Linked DNA regions of Homo sapiens: region 1 is linked to region 2. The links come from fine-mapping of genetic effects on gene expression. Tissue or cell type: whole blood. Region 2 holds a variant in brackets; the other region holds the start of a gene. All regions are shown on one strand. Distances are from middle to middle.

What was found. PIP is the estimated chance that this variant, and not a neighbour inherited with it, causes the effect.
Region 1: ERGIC1 starts here. The variant in region 2 is fine-mapped to the expression of ERGIC1 in whole blood (TOPMed, PIP above 0.99).

What each region holds. Positions count from the first base shown.
Region 1 is chr5:172,830,000-172,838,090 of GRCh38, reverse strand. It overlaps ERGIC1 (endoplasmic reticulum-golgi intermediate compartment 1), which reads right to left and starts at 3,840. Exons shown (of 10, transcript NM_001031711.3): 1 at 3,658-3,840. The coding sequence starts at 3,677. LOC124901135 (a long non-coding RNA gene) reads left to right here. Exons shown (of 2, transcript XR_007059054.1): 2 at 518-741. RefSeq lists enhancers at 1,110-2,101, 2,398-2,607, 2,102-3,094 and silencers at 3,078-3,157, 3,168-3,217, 3,588-3,987.
Region 2 is chr5:172,883,250-172,891,352 of GRCh38, reverse strand. It overlaps ERGIC1 (endoplasmic reticulum-golgi intermediate compartment 1), which reads right to left. Exons shown (of 10, transcript NM_001031711.3): 2 at 2,593-2,654. Among named protein-coding and RNA genes, the nearest start is that of MIR10523, 28 kb to the left of the region's middle. The variant G/T (reference allele first, on the strand shown) is at 3,284.

The DNA of each region.
Region 1 (8,091 bases), 53 kb after region 2:
AGTCAATGGTCCCAGAGCACATCTGGTCAGTGCCAGTGCAGCGGCACCCCCGAGGCCTTGGGTTTTCAACATGGGGGCTGTCACTGTGGGACAGCAGCCACCTGCACCTCCCGGAAGGCAGTGCTCAGGCACCACTGGGCCTGGGCACAGGGCTTCCGGATGCTGTTATCTTCCCTCCTCACCCACCCTGGGCTGGTGTGCAGAAGGCAGCAGGTGCTACTGGCCCCAGGCCAGCCGGAACTCGAAACAACACACACGGATGTGGGTCACAAGGCTAGTTCCACAACTGCAACAGCCAGCCATTAGTGAAACAATTTAACAAGAGCAAAGCAAACACAATAAATCATTGAAAGCTCAGCCTCCCTCCCCTGCGTTCTGCCTCCTTCCTTAACCCCAAAAACAACCTAGGAACGGCAGATTCAAGGGTGGAGAGGGGAGATTTCTCCACTAATGGCTGAAAATCTGCCCACTGAAGCTGGCATATCAAGTCACGTCATGTCTATGGCTTCCTTGACAGATTTCAAGAGGCATCTCCAAGGATCGAGTTTGGCTCAAGCACAGTTCTAGGTGCTGGAGATGCAACCTTGAAGAAGCCTGATAAAAACTTCTTGCCCTCAGGAGCTCATGTACTAATGGGAGGGAGAGAGAAGCAGCATGATAATTAAGTGAATTATATAATGTGTTAGGAGATGATGGGTGCTTAAATAAAATGACACAAATAAATATGGCGGCCAAAATGGATGAGGCGCTTACTCTGTGTCTAAATGCTTTCCGCACTGCCTCATCCCTCAACTGTTCTACTTCGGTGAGTACTCTCCTCATTCCCATTTCACAGACAGGAAAACACAGAACTCAGTTGCACCAGGCTCTACAGGCAGTAAGAAAATCAGAAGTATCCGTAGGGAAGGGCAAGAGTGCACTATTTTTCCTGCTTCTGATTTTAAGAAGGGGAACACGAGCAGGACGGCTGGTTTTCTCCCTGGCCTTGAACTGGGGGAGGAGGTCTAATCACGGTATACCCCTCTCCACTCCCCACAATTCTTAAAAGAGCTGACAGGATGGTGGGCCCCTCCAATCTCTCCCTTTTCTCCCAGATCTAAGGCTTTGGAGCTAACAGCCCCAAGTTCAAATCCCAGATCCACCAGCTCATGCACTGCATGGCCAGAGCAAAGGGCTTCTACTCAGTGGAGCTCCCCTCTCCTTTGATTTAAAATGAAGATTAAAACTCCCTCTCTCAGGTGACAAGGGAATCGATGTCTGCACCCCAAAGTGTGTATACAGTGGTAGATGCTCCTTGCGTGCCAGTTCACGCACACCCCCACTCCTGGGACCCCATAAGCCCTCCTCCCTTCTCTTGGAATGCAAAGAGAGCCGGACCACATGCCACCCACCTCCTCACGGTGGGGCCTGTGGCAGAGGGCTGAGCATGGACTGGACACTTGATGAATGCTTGATGAATGCACACTGAAGCGGAGGAAGGTGCATGGGGATGGTCGAACCCTCAGTAGAACCCAGGTCCTGGAGCCTTGAAGTTCACAGAGCTTAAAGAGTGCAGGTTTGCTGGGCACACATGGCTCATCCTCCAAGGTGCAAACGTGAAGCACTGAATCCATTCTCACCATTCCGCAGTGAGCCCAAGCCCTGAGAGTATTTCCTAGTTAAGCTGGGCCCCCTGACACCTGGGCACTCAGGGACCTGAAGTATGCCAAGGGAGCCCCAGACTAGCCAGCTTCTCAGAGCTGAGCATTTCTCTCTTTAAATATCAATGCCTGACACAGGGCCCTTCCAAGGCCAAAGGCTAGAGCTGGCCTTACCCATTTTCCTTACTTCCCTTACCTGCCCCCACAAGCCACCAATTCAAGGAGCACAAGGTTGGGAGCCATGTGTGACCTGAGACCTAAGTCTACCCTTCCCATTTAGCACCCATAAAGTCCAAGATAAGGCCCTCATCCCTGGAGCCTCATTTCCTCCTTGGTAAGACGGAAGGGTGAGGTGCAGGGAGAAAGGATTAAAAGATCAAAAACAGCAATTTCCCCAGCAAGCTCAAAATCACCGGAACCTACTGAATCACACAGGGGCAGGGGGCGGCGGTGGCACGAATCCCTATGGTTGGCCTGGGTAAGGGGAGGCTTTGTGGAACCAGAAATTGATGTGCCGACCACAGCTCTTATGGCCCAGACTTAACTGATGCTATTAGGACTGACCTTGAATTCCACCAGAGGGGCTGTCCTTGTTCAAAACTGCCTAGGTCTGCTAGCCTCAGGGCTGCCCGGCAGGGGCAAGAAGCCGGCAAACATTTGCTAGCTGGTATCAGGGACCCGGACAGGCTGGAAAACCATGTCAACCAATCAAGAGGTCCAAGACCAGTGTCCTCTTTGGGCCTAAACCCCAATATATCCCATGCTATGGGGGTCATGGCAGGCTAAGGGCCTTTCTCTCTGGGTAGACTGTCACTTTACACTGCCTTCACATGCAAGAAGAGGGGAAGAAATACCTCCTGTGGCACAGGCATCTGAATCACTATTTTGTGGATGTGGAAAACCCCTCCTGGAGAACACCCCCCATCCACTAATGCCCTATTTCTGAGCTCTAAATCATGCCAGACTCTGCTAAGGGTGTTTCACGCACTCAGTCGTCACAAGCGGAGACCTTATTTTTAGCCCCAATTTGCAGGTGGTGAAACTGAGGGCGCTCGGAGACTTGCTGAGGTCAGCCAGCCGAGCGGCGACAGGGAGTTCTGAACCCAGAGCCTTTGCCCCTAACTTCTAGAATATACCGAGCTGTTCAGTAGAAAGGGCAGAGCCAGGATTCTAATCCAGCTCCTCCCTGCATTAAAGCCCTGCTCTTTTCCCAGCCAGACACCAAGTGTGGCTGCCTCAGGCCAGGACATCCCCTGGGGCTCCACACCTCAAGGGAACCTCTGGTGGAGATCTCTTCCCCCGCAGGCTTCCAGAATGCCCCATGCAACCTAGACCATGAGGCAGCTGGACCCCACAAAGGACCCATTGTGGTGACTGCAGAAAGCCAAGGCCAGACCCCGGTGGCCCTTCTGCAGAGTCCTGCCCAAGGCGCCTCCTCCCCTTCCCATGGTGCCCCCATACCCAGCGGACAGGGCTGGGGCTGAGGGAGGGAGGGGCGGGGGCAGGCCTCCCGATCTGCCCGGCCTGGGGGAGCCTCAGGCTATAGAAACTTAAAACCCTCCAGCTGCCGGCAGGCTGCATGGGGCCCCAGGCCCCTCCGGACTCATTCCAGGTGCCCTGCCCCACCTGTCAGCTGAGGTGGGGTCCACCAAGGAGGCTCAGTAGAGGGAGGAGAGGGATGCTGGGGTGTTATGGGCTGTTCCCATCTGGGAGGAGGGAGGAAATGTTTCCTAGTGTGGGGGAGGGGAATGCAAGGTATCCGGGCAGGCTGGGGAGGGGGCTCGGCGGAGGGAAGGTGGGTGGATTTGTCTCCCGCTGCACGAGGGGGCCTCCGCGGCTCTGGCTGGCTTCGTGTGCGGCAGGGGGGGGGCTCGCCTGGGGTCCCTAGGGGCCTGCGGAGGCATGCACAGGGCGGGGAGCCGCTTTTGCATGCAGGGCGGGAGGGGTCCGCGGCGTGCCGGGGCGCTCCCTCTGCCCGCTGAGGGAACTCCCGACTGGCCGGGGTCGCCACACTCACCTCCTGAAGTCAAAGGGCATCGTGCCGCCGCCGGGGGTGGGAGCGCTGCAGGCCAGGCGGGCCGCGGCGCCGCGTGGGTCCGAGCCCGCTGCCAACGCCTCCTCCGGCCGCCCCGCCCCCGCCGGCCGCCCCCCTGACACTCGCCACTCGCCACTCGCCACTCGCCTCCCGCTGCCGGGAAGTGACGCTCCGCGCAGCCCATTGGGCGCCGCCCGCCCGGCCGCCCCTTCCGCCACCCGGTTAAAGGGGCCCGCGGGCAGGCAGGGAAGGGGCGGAGAGTCGAGGCTGTCGGAAGGGAAGGGAGTCCCCCAAAGACTCCAGTACTCATTCCTTCAAGCCTCCCACTTAGATTTCCTTCTCCATCTCTTTGGATGCCCTCGGACAAATTCTCTGCTTCTCCGAGCCCAGTTTTTTGCATTTGTAAACAGTTTCACTGAACTGTGATTGAGTTGGGGGCGGGGGGCGGGGTGATACAGACTTTGGCCGTGCACAGCGTCTAGCTCTGAGTGAGGGCCTAATACTGTGGGGGAAGGGAAGAGGTCGGCCATCCTAGGCTGTTAAGGTGGACTCACCTCTGCCCCTGCCGTGTCTCTCTGGGAAAGCCACTGGGCTTCTCAGAGCGCCCCCCCCCCGCCCCGCCCCTTTTGCATATCTGCACAAAGAGGACGATGACACCTACTTGAGGGGGTTTTCCTGGGGATCAGCTGAGAAACAGGAGACTGGCTTAGCACAGTGCCAGGCACCTGAAACTATTGAGGCTGGCAGTGGCTGTCCCTGCTTCCATCTGCCCCTGTCGTTCACTCCAGTGGGCATTCACAGAGCATCTGCTCTGAACCAGGTCCATCGAGAACATGCAGGGTTGTGGCAGAGGCAGATGGGACCTGCACTGTGACTTGGCCAACGTGGACTGTGCCGATTGTCTCCTTCTTAGAGCCTCAGTTTCCTCCTCAGGAATACAGAGCAGCTGCCTCCGTGACTGCTGGATTAGAGGAGATGGTAGTTGAGGTCACACAAGACCTGAGTAGGGGAAACTCACTCTGAACTTCCCCGAGGTTCTGTCACTGGCCCTTTCTCCAAGGTTGTGGTGGGACAGGGCTTCAAAAAACCCAGGGGAGAATGGTGAGGGCTCGGGTTCCAAAAGCAGAGTCAATGGACAGTTTCCCCCTGTGTAAATAGAGGGGAACAGCAGTGCTGGTTCCTCCGGGAGGATTCAGAAGGGACAACACTAGCACGGGGTCTGGGGTAGGGTGACGTGGTGAACCAAAGCCTTCCCCTAGAGCATATGCCGGGACCTGACCTCTGCGTTCCCTTTTCATTCATTCACTCATTCATTCATTCATTCATTCAGTGTCAGTGGTCTGACACTGTTGGGGGAGAAAAGGAAATCTCAGCCTGAACTGGAAACCTAGGGACAGCAGGGAGAGTTAAGGGATCTTGAGCAGCCACTGCTTCCAAACAGCCATTCGTTGGCCCTGTGTGGGAGGAAACATGCAATGATGGATCTTTGACCTCGAATCCTCCCTCCTCAAACTGTGGTCCACAGACCAGCCACATGGCCATCACAGGACAGACTCTTGTCCCCAGGCCAGACCTACTGAATCAAGTGTGCATTTGGGATGATATCCAAGGTCAGCAAATGCCTGGCACAGAGTAAATGCAAGACAGGGTTGACTATCATTGCTCTTTTCGAGTGGGGATAGAGCTCCCAACTTTTGGCTGGGCATGTGGGTGCTCACAGTGAAAGTTGCATTTCCCCAGCTTCCTTTGTAGCTAGATGTGGCATTGAGAAGTAAAGGGAAGTGTCTTGTGGGGCATCTGGGATAGTTGGTATGTCTGCTTTACCCTCTGTGTCCCTTTCTCCATCTGGCTGCCAGGAATGTAGGCGTCACCATCCTGGACCATAAGGTGGAGGCCACCACAGAGCAGAGCAACAAGACAAAAAGAGCCTAAGTTCCTGCCGGGCACAGTGGCTCACACCTGTAATTGCAGCACTTTGGGAGGCCGAGGTGGGCGGATCACCTGAGGTCAGGAGTTCGAGACCAGCCTGACCAACATGTGGTGAAACCCTGTCTCTACTAAAAATACAAAAATTAGCCGGGCGTGGTGCCACACGCCTGTAATCCCAGCTACTCAGGAGGCTGAGGCAGGAGAATCGCCTGAACCTGGGAGGCAGAGGTTGCAGTGAGCCCAGATCACACCACTGCCCTCCAGCCTGTGCGACAGAGTGAGACTCTGTCTCAAAAAAAAAAAAAAAAAACCTGAGTTCCTGTCTCTAAGTGGCAAAATACCTGTCCTCAAACACCTGCCCAAGAGAAACAAACATCTATCTTATTTAAGCTATTGTTATTCTGTATTTTCAGACACTTACACCTAAACCCAATGCTGATACACCTATGCAGCCTGGCTAGCTACTTGACTGCCCCAATGCTCATGGACTAGGCCAGTCCCCTATTACATAATCGCATGGTACCTTGTAGGTTTCCTTGGGAGAACTGGGCATGACGTGTGATTAGGTTATTATTAATTCGCTAGTAACTACTACCCCATCTGAGTGAAAGTTCCCTGAGAGGGGCCTGTCGGGGGGTAGGGGGCTAGGGGAGGGATAGCATTAGGAGAAATACCTAATGTAGATGACGGGTTGATGGGTACACAAACAATGATGCCATACACAAATGGCACGTGTATGCCTGTGTGACAAAACTGCACGTTCTGCACATGTATCCCAGAACCTAAAGTATAATTTAAAAAAAAAAAGGAAAGTTCCCTGAGACAAGGTGGTATCACCATCATATCCTAGCATCCAGCCAGACCCTGCACATGCTGGGGATGCACTAACTATGCGTTGAAGTTTGAATAGAGGCTTCCCAGGGAGGCAGGCCTTCCCACGGAGGCAGGCCTTACCAACAGAACAGCGGATGGGAGGGGAGGTATCAACATGGGCCTCCGCTGTGGGACTGGTGAGGTCTGTGAGCAGACCAGGCTGTCAGTCCCAGATGGTCCATCCACTCAAGAGCCAGTGGGAGATGGAGCTAAGAAAATCAGATTGTGTCTGCAGTACGTGGGAAGGCTCTGGGTCTCTTTGAGCAGGGAACAACAATACAAGTTAAGTTTTCGGATTATCAATCTTGTGGAAGCCTGTGGTAGGTAGCCAGCCTCCAGTGACCCTGATCTCCTGGTATTCCCATGCCCTTCTAGAATCACCTCCCACAATGAATAGGGCTGACCTATCCTGTGTAATCAACAGGATATTGCAGAAACGACAGTTATGACTCCTGTGGCTACGTCACAAAAGACTGAGGCTCTGCTTAGCCACTCTTGAATCACTCGTTCTGAGGGAAGCCAACTGCCTGTCCTAAAGAGGCTCAAGCACGATTATAAAGGGGCCTGGTCGGTGAGGAATGAGGCCTCCCACCAACAGCCATGTGAGTGGGCTCTCTTGGAAGTAGCGGCTCAGCCCCGGTCAGGGCTTCAAAGCTGCATCCCCAGCCCACAGCTTAACCACAGGTTCTTGAGAGACCCTGAGAAACACCCAGCTCAGCTGCTCCCGAATTCCTGATCCATAGAAACTATAAGATAATAAATGTTTGCTTTAAGCCATTAAGTTGTGGGTAATTAGTTACACAGCAGTAGATAAATAACAGAGACTCCATCCTCATTATTTTTTTTTCCTACCAGTAACTTCTCCCTGCCTTCCTCCATCTCACCCCCCGCCAGCCTGGGGAAATAGAAAACCACTTTGGACTCAGATCACTCTCTGCTGGGTGACCTGGACCAGTTGCTTAACTAGCTGGGTGTCTAGGTATGAAATGAAGGATAATAATACCTTACCTGTGGCAGGTAGCCTCTGAAATTGTCCCAATTAACCCACCTCTTGGTATTCATACCCTTGTGTAATTTCCTCCCTTCAAGTGTAGGCTGGACTTATGGACTCATTTCTAATGCACAAAATATGGCAGAAGTGATGAGCATGTTGCTTCTGAGATTAGGTTATCAAGAGATGGTGACTTCTGTCTTGGACACTCTCTTGCTATCTCTTGGATCAGTCACCCTGGATAAGCTGGCTTCTGTGTGTGGCTTCTGTGCCCTAAGGAAAAGCCCCTGTGGGTGAGTTTGCAAGTGATTCTTCTAAGGCAGGGGTGTCCAATCTTTTAGCTTCCCTGGGCCACGCTGGAAGAAGAAAAACTGTCTTAGGGGCCGGGCGTGGTGGCTTACGCCTGTAATCCCAGCACTTTGGGAGGCAGAGGCAGGTGGATCACGAGGTCAGGAGTTTGAGACCAGCCTGACCAACATGCTGAAACCCCGTCTCTACTAAAAACAAAAACAATTAGCTAGGCATGGTGGCGCATGCCTGTAATCCCAGCTACTCAGGAGGCTGAGGCAGGAGAATTGCTTGAACCTGAGAAGCAGAGGTTGCAGTGAGCAGAGATGGAGCCA
Region 2 (8,103 bases):
GGAAGAGGATGGAGCCACTGGTGGACGGTAGGAATGGGGCAGGAAGCCTCATTTGATTTTTTTGGATCAGGTTCATAAACTACCAAGGCTCTTTCCTCTCATGGTCCCCTCCATATCCTTTCCTCGGGAGTCAAGGCACAAAGCTGCACAGCTTCTCAGGCCACAGGCCCTCATGTGTTGCAGGCTCCGGGAGGACAGTGAGAAGAAAAGGAGAGTCATCCATGCACTGAGGGGTTAGTACGTGCCCTGCACAAGACACATCCCGGGACACATTTAATCCCCAGATCAGGAAACTGAGGCTCAGAGAGGGGAGTGACTTGCTCAGTCACACTGCTGCTAAATGGGAGGATGAACCTTGCTCTGCCCGAACACAGAGCCTGTGTGACATGCATCCTGCCACGGGGCTGTGCTGTCCCTTCCTCAGGGCTCTCAAAGGCATCTTGCAGCTTCAACAAGCCCAGCCGGATCCCCAAGGTCCTCCCCCAACTGAGAATGGCCTGACCTGGGAGAAGTGGACTCCAATATGACCGACTGCCCGGCCCAGGACCCTGCTCAGGCAGCAGGGCTGGGACCATCAGGGGGGCAGTTCCCTCTCCCACACCAGGCACTAGGGGGGCTTGTGGGGTGCAAGGAGGCCCACCTGAGTATGAGTCGTGGCTCCATCTTCTGTGAGCTGTGAAATTTCAGCTCACCTCTCTCAGCTCATTTTCTCATTGGGAAAATGAGGCGAAAGCATCCCCTGTTTGCAAGGTGGCTTTGGTTTGTTTTTAAAACTTTTTACTGTAGAATAATCATAGATGCAAAGGTAGTACAGACAGTTCCCATACGCCCTTCACTGGGCTTCCCGTTATGTTAGCATCTTACATTTGTCAAAATGAAGAATTGAACATTAGTACAGTACCATGAACTTGGCTACGGACTTTATTTGGGCTTCACCAGTTTTCCCACAAACTCCAGATTTCTGTTCCAGGAACTGATCTGGGAGTCCACTTTGCATTTTCATCCTGGGTCCTTAGTCTCTTATCAGTGACAGTTCCTCGGTCTTTTGTGTTTTTCAAGGCCTTGCCATGTTTGAAGAGTACTGGCCAAGTATCCTATAGAATGTCCCCTGACCTGGGATTGTGAGTTTTCCTATGATTAGACTGAACTGTGGTTTTTTGGTACGATCCCATGGAGGCAAGATGCCTCCATGCATCCTATCAGGGGCTCACGATATGCACGTGGCTTATCACTGGTCATGCCAACCTTTCTCACTTGGTTCCTCACTGGCACTTGCCATATTTCCTCAGTAAAGGCCTTATTTTTCCTTCCCATTCTCTATTCTTTGAAATAGAGTTACTAAGTCCACACTCAAGAGAGGGGAATTAAACTCCACCACCTGGATGGGAGAATAGCTACATACACGTTGAGTATCCCAAATCTGAAAACCCAAAATCCTAAGTGCTCCAAAATTTGAAACGTTTTCAGTGCCAACATGTTGCTCAAAGGAAATGCTCACTGAAGCATTTTGGATTTCAGGTTTTTGGATGTGGGATGCTCAACTGATAAGTATAATGCAAATATTCTAAAATCTGATATCCAAAATCTGAGACACTTGTCCTAAGCATTTTGGATAAGAGATACTCAGCCTGTATATTATTTGGAATTCTTCTGAATGGATTTGTCTCTTCTCCCCCATTTATTGATATCAATTAGGACCCACAGAACTCTTTCTTAATTCTCTGGCTTCTAAGCCAATAATGTCATTATTTATTTTATTACTCAAACTGCTGCAGGCTGACTTTCAAGTTGGCTCCTAGGTCCTGCTGACACCAGGCACTCCAGGCTCCTCTATCTTTACCCTGCCTAGCCCTGAAATCAGCCATTTCTCCAAGGAGCCATGGTTCCTTTTATTGAAGAATGGTCTTTAGAACCCAAAGTCTGGATGAGATTGTGATTTTTTTTTTTAATGGATAAAAACATGCTTTGGTGGAAAACTCAAATCATTTTTAAGGTATAAAGAGAAAAGTAAATCTCCTTCCTACCCCTGGGCCCAATTCCTCTCCCAGGGGCAGCTACTGTTTTTTTTTAGATGGAGTCTCGCTCTTGTTGCCCAGGCTGAAGTGCAATGGTGTGATCTCGGCTCACTGCAACCTCCACCTCCCTGTTTCAAGCGATTCTCCTGCCTCAGCCTCCCGAGTAGATGGGACTACAGGCATGTACCACCATGCCTGGCTAATTTTGTATTTTTAATAGAGACGGGGTTTCAGCATGTTGGTCAGCCTGGTCTCGAACTCCTGATGTCAATTGATCCACCCGCCTTGGCCTCCCAAAGTGTTGGGATTACAGGCGTGAGCCACCGCGCCCAGCCTGGCAGCTACTCTTGACAATTTCTTTCATGTCCTTCCAGATGGTGCCTGTGCCTTGAGGGGTTACAGTGAGGATAGAGAGTAAGTGAGGAAATGCTTGAAGGGCCCCCGCAAGATGCTCAGCATTTCTTTCCTCCCTCCTGTCTTTCCTTCTTTCCTCCCTGGCCCAGATGATCTGCACAGAGAGAGCAGGCACAGGCAGTGGAGATGGGGCAGAGGGCATGGCCAGAGGTTGGCTACTCACTAATGGCCCCGGTGTACGTTGGCTGCGTAAGGTCCTTGGGCACCTTCCTGTAGATGTCAAACCTGTGGAGAGCAAATGGAACAGGAGTGAGGTGGGCACAAAGGGTGGGTCTCAAGGCAGCAGGCAGTGGTGCTGGCTTGTGTGACACATGGTTCAACAAACCATGGTTCTTCCCACAGTTTTTCTGCTCTTTCAGGACACTTTCTCCAAGATGCTTCTCTGATGGAACCCCTGCTCCCCACAACACCCTTAGATCACATCCCCTTGTCATCTCTTCTTCATAACATTTCTTTTTTTTTTTTAAACAGGGTCTCGCTCTGTCACCCAGGCTGGAGTGCAGTTGTGCAATCTTGGCTCACTGCAACCTCTGCCTCCCAGGTTCAAGTGAGTCTCGTGTCTCAGCCTCCCAAGTAGCTGGGACTACGGGCATGTGCCACCATGCCTGGCTAATTTTTGTATTTTTGGTAGAGACGGGGTTTTGCCATGTTGCCCAGGCTGGTCTCGAACTCCTAAGCTCAACCGATCTGCCCACCTTGGCCTCCCAAAGTGCTGGGATTACAGGCGTGAACCACCAGATGACCCTCCCACTCATCGGTGGGTCTTCCATCAGAGTGTAACTTCTGCGAGAGCAGGGGCCTAGTTAGGTTTTGTTCCCTGCCACGTTCCCAAACCCTAGCATGGGCCTGGTGCA[G/T]AGTAGGCACTGGATAATTATGGAATGTATGGAACCCCTGAATCGGGGGTGACTCTGACGCTAGAGGAAGCAAGGAAACGCACAGCCCTGCTCGAGTTATGTGACGATGCTGCATTCTTGCTCCACGTCACCTCTCCTCCCCCTCTTCCCTTTCCTGCCTCCTCCTGTTTCCACTCCGGCTGCACCCCCCAGCTCCTGCTGTCTGCCTCATGGAGACTCTTCTTAAGAATGCTAAGGCATGAGGTTAACAGAAAGTCCTGCCAGGAGCCCACGGTCTTAGCATCAGCTGGTGATGGCTCTGGTTCCTGTCTTGTGTGATTTCTTTCCCTCACAGAAGCAGACAGATGTCTTTCTTTCCTATGGATCCCACCAGAGCACAGGGAAATCGTGTGGTGTAGTGGGAGAATTCAGGGTTTTGGAAATCAGACAGACACAGGTTTAATTCTGGCTCTGCTTCAGCTATTTAAGAGTTAAGACCCTGGAATCAGACTACCCTGGTTCAAATCTCGGCTGGTCCTCTCGTTCACCATGTGACCTTCAGCAAACGACTTCACCTCTCGGAGCCTGTTTCCTCCTTTGTAAAAATGGGACCATTAGTACTAGACCCTGTGAGGCCACGGAAAGGAGTGAGGGAAAGAAGTGTCTGTAAAGGATGTGACGCAGAGAGCTCGCAGGGGAGGCTCCCCACACACTTGGCTTCGTTTCCTTCACTTGAACCTGCGTAGCAGACAGTTCTCCCACAGCAGAGTTTGATCGACAGAACCCTCCTTAGTCCACACGGCATCCCAGCTCTCAGACAGAACTTGACTTGCTGGAGAGGCCGGCGGCTCCAGCCCTTGGGGGTGACAGGCTGGTGTGCGGTTCCTCTTTGGTGATTGGGAAACAAGAGTATGCCCAGCTAAACCCGACGCAATGCCTTGGAAACCTTGCGTAAGGGCCGATGCTTGAATCAGTGTGCTCACCCTAATTACACGTGAAACATGCTCAGTTTCCTAAGACCTCAGGGGAGAAAAATTCCTGCGGGCTGCCAAGTTCAAAGGTACCACTTTCTCTGCCGCCTGCTTAGCTCCCAGTCACCTGTGCTTGTGCCCCTGAGGGTACTAGAAGCTGGGGCTGGGGTGTGGTCGGGAGGTTGGGGGTCTCTGCAACTCACCTGTCCATATTTACTCATATCCCTTAGTCAGAAAGTGGGGGCCGCTTTAACACTGAGAGGTGTGTGAGAGGTAAGAGCATGTGCTGTGGAATCAGATGCCTGGGCTCAACTATGACCACTACTGTACCACCCTGGGACCGTCACTTAACCTCTCTGTGCCTCAGTTTCTTTGTCTATAAAGTGGGGGCAACAACAGTAACTATCTCACAGCATGGTGGTGAGGCTCAAATGACTGAGCACATATAAAGTACTTAGGCAGAGCCTGGCACCCCAGAAATGCCACGTGGATATTTGTGGTTACTATTATTATTAACGCTTGTTTGACAAACATTTACGCAGTGCCTACTAACACACCCCCTCTTTTAGGCCCTTAGGCAAGGAGATAAAAATCAACCCTTGGCCCAGTGAGTTTGTAGTTTAGCGGTAGAGGCAAAGAAAGGGAAGGAGAAGGTAGTGGCATCCTCATCACGAGGTGCTGGATTAACTCAGGAGGGGGTACCTGACTTGGCCTGGGGTCCTCGGTGAAGCTTCCTACAGGGGGTGATGTGTGCACAGAGCAGGAGGGGGAGAAGATGGATGGGTGGAGGGAAAGAGCAGCCCAGGCAAGGAGAGGAGCAGAAGCAAAGACAGAGTAGGACCGAATCTGGGAAGCTGGGCGCTGTCCTCTCTCCGGCACAGGGTACAGCCCGATGTGCAGGGAGAGGAGGACGGAAAACTGGGGCGGGGCTGGAGGAGAGGGTCCTGAGGGCCAGGCTGTGGCTAGGGAGTCTCACACCAAGTGTCGATGGGGGCCGGCGGGCGGTCTACTGTGGGAGACTGTGAGAGGTCAGCAAATTTGGGAGGTAGGGGTGGGGAGAGGGAATGGAGAGAAAACAAACCAGCAGGCGGCCATCACCGAGCCCCAGCTGACACCTGCCAGGTAGAGATGCGGGCTCAGGAGGCCAGACCTTCTGAGTGTCCAAGAGAAGCCAAAAATGTGGAATTTTACATGGAAGTTCACCATTCTCAAATGCTGGGCCAACACTCTACAGGACAAATGAGACGCGTCTGCAGATGACATGAGGCCTGGGGCCTAGGCGGTGACCATTTGAGCGGAGAGGCCTTGCGGAGCTGGAAGAGGATGTGGTCCGCCTCGTGTCATAGGAAGGCCAGCCTGGGCCAGTGGGGAGGGCATGTGGGTTCTCCTAAGACTGGAGAAATGAGCAGCAGGAAAGGGCTGCAGCGGGAGGGGTCTCGTCCTCACTCCACCCCAACTTCGTGTTAGACCTTCAGAAAATCCCTGGCCCTTGCTGGGCCTCAGCTTCTCTGAGTATGAAATGAGGGGGTGCACAGGGGATCTAAAAGTTCCCATGCAGATTAAAGCATGACAGCCGTGTCCTGGGGCTCGATACCCCAGGTGGCTAACAGCCCAGCTTTTGTCCAGGTCACCATCAGGGACCGACAAGCAGAAACTGGGCCTCGCAGTTTAAAAAAATACAGAAACTGCTGTACACGATGGCTCTTGCCTGTAATCCCAGCACTTTGGGAGGCTGAGGTGGGAGGACTGCTTGAGAATAGGAGTTTGCGACCAGCCTGGGCAGCATAGAGAGACCTCATCTCCACAAAAAAAAATGAACAAAATTAGCTGGGCATGGTGGTGTGCGCCTGTAGTCCCAGCTAGTCAGGAGGCTGAGGTGGGAGGATCACTTGAGCCTGGGAGGTTGAGGCTGCAGTGAGCTAAGATGGTGCCAATGTACTCCAGCCTGGGTCACACAGTGAGACCCTATCTCAAAAATATACATAAAATAAAAATTAAAAAATAAAAAATATAAGAACCATTGTTTCAAAACTGGAAGTCAGAGGCTGCTCTGGGTGAGGAGGCAGCAGTGGCTCGGGGCAGAGTGTCTAAGTTCAGTCAGGGTGAGGAAGAGAGAGATAGGAGATTGTTACATACAGAGAGACTGGTCAAACATGTACATGTACAAGGATAGTGGGGCCAGGTGCCTCACTGTCAGGGAAGGGAGGTGAAAACATGGTATTATAGTGGTAATGGAAATATCAGTATGAATTAATCATTTTCAATATACCCAAACACTGAAATATGCACATGTATATATACGTATCATATATACATACATTTCCTAGCTCTTTCCATAGAGAAGATCCAGCAACAGCAACAGCCCAATAGCAGTGAGTGTAACGAGCACCCAAACCTTGGCTTCTAATCACTATTCTCTACTTAAAGCAGTCAGAGCTCCTTGGAATGGCTGATTCTAGGCTGGGCAGGAAAAATACAAGATGGGCCTGGAGCACCTTCTTATGTCAGAAACCAAGAAAGTGTTCAAAGAATGAAAAGGACATGTCAAAAGGACAAGAAGAGGCCAGACACAGTCAGTGGCTCATGCTTGTAATTCCAGCAGTTTGGGAGGCCCAGGTGGGGGGATCGCTTGAGGCCAGGAGTTCAAGAAAAGCCTGGGCAACATAACAAGACCTCATCTCTACAAACAACAACAACAAAAAACAACAACAAAAGTTGGGCGTGGTGGTGTGTGCCTATAGTCCTAGCTACTCAAGAGGCTGAGGTGGGAGGATCATTTGAATCCAGGAGTTTAATGCTATGGTGAGCCTTGCACTCCAGCCTGGGCTACAGGGTGAGGCCCTGTCTTTAAAAAAAAAAAAAAAAAAAAAAAAAACTTGGGGTTCCCACTGGCCGAAGAATAGACAATGTGAGCATCAAAATAAATAACAATCATCACAGATTATAAGCCATTGGATAAAACAGAAAGGATAAAACATACATAGAAATAAAGAAATGAACAAATCAAAACTTTGATAAAGACAGGATATTGACATACCTTCAAAGCACTTCCCCCAGAAAACGCTTATTAATTACAAAATGGAAAGAGTAACTGTGCAGTGGAGAAATTTGGCAGACATCGTCTTTTTGATGGGGGCTGGAGGGACAGGGTCTCACTGTGACCCAGGCTGGAGTGCAGTGATGTGATGACTCACTGCAGCCTCAACCTCCCAAGGCTCAGGCGATCCTCCCACCTCAGCCTCCCGAGTAGCTGGGACTACAGGGATGCACCATCATGCCTGGCTAATTTTTTAATTTTTTTGTAGGGATGGGGTTTTGCCATGTTGCCCAGGCTGGTCTTCAACTACAGGGCTCAAGCGATCTGCCCGCCTCGGCCTCCCAAAGTATTGGGATTACAGGCATGAGCCACTGTGCCTGGCCCAGGCATCATCTTAACCAGGTGAAGACAGTGGGCACCGGAAGCATGGAGACACATCGGCACCCTGTGCCTCCTGATATGCCGCACTGAGGAGGGCACAGCACCACTTCTGGGGGATCCTGCCTAAAAGGTACAGCTTCAATCTAACAATGAGAGAACATCAAACAAATCCAAAGTGAGGGGCAGTCTACAAAAAAACAAAACAAAACAAAACAAAAACTGGCTGGCATTTGTCAAGAGCACTCAGGTCATAAAGCACAAGAAAAGATGGGGAAACTGTCACAGATTGAAGGAGACTAAAGAGACATGACAACTAAATCCAATGAGATCCTGGATCAGAAAAAGGCCATCAGGGGACACCTGAAGAAAGTTGAGTACGATCTGCAGATTGGCCGGCAGCACTGTCTAATGGATTTTCCTGCTCTTAATCATGGTATTGTGATTATGTAAGA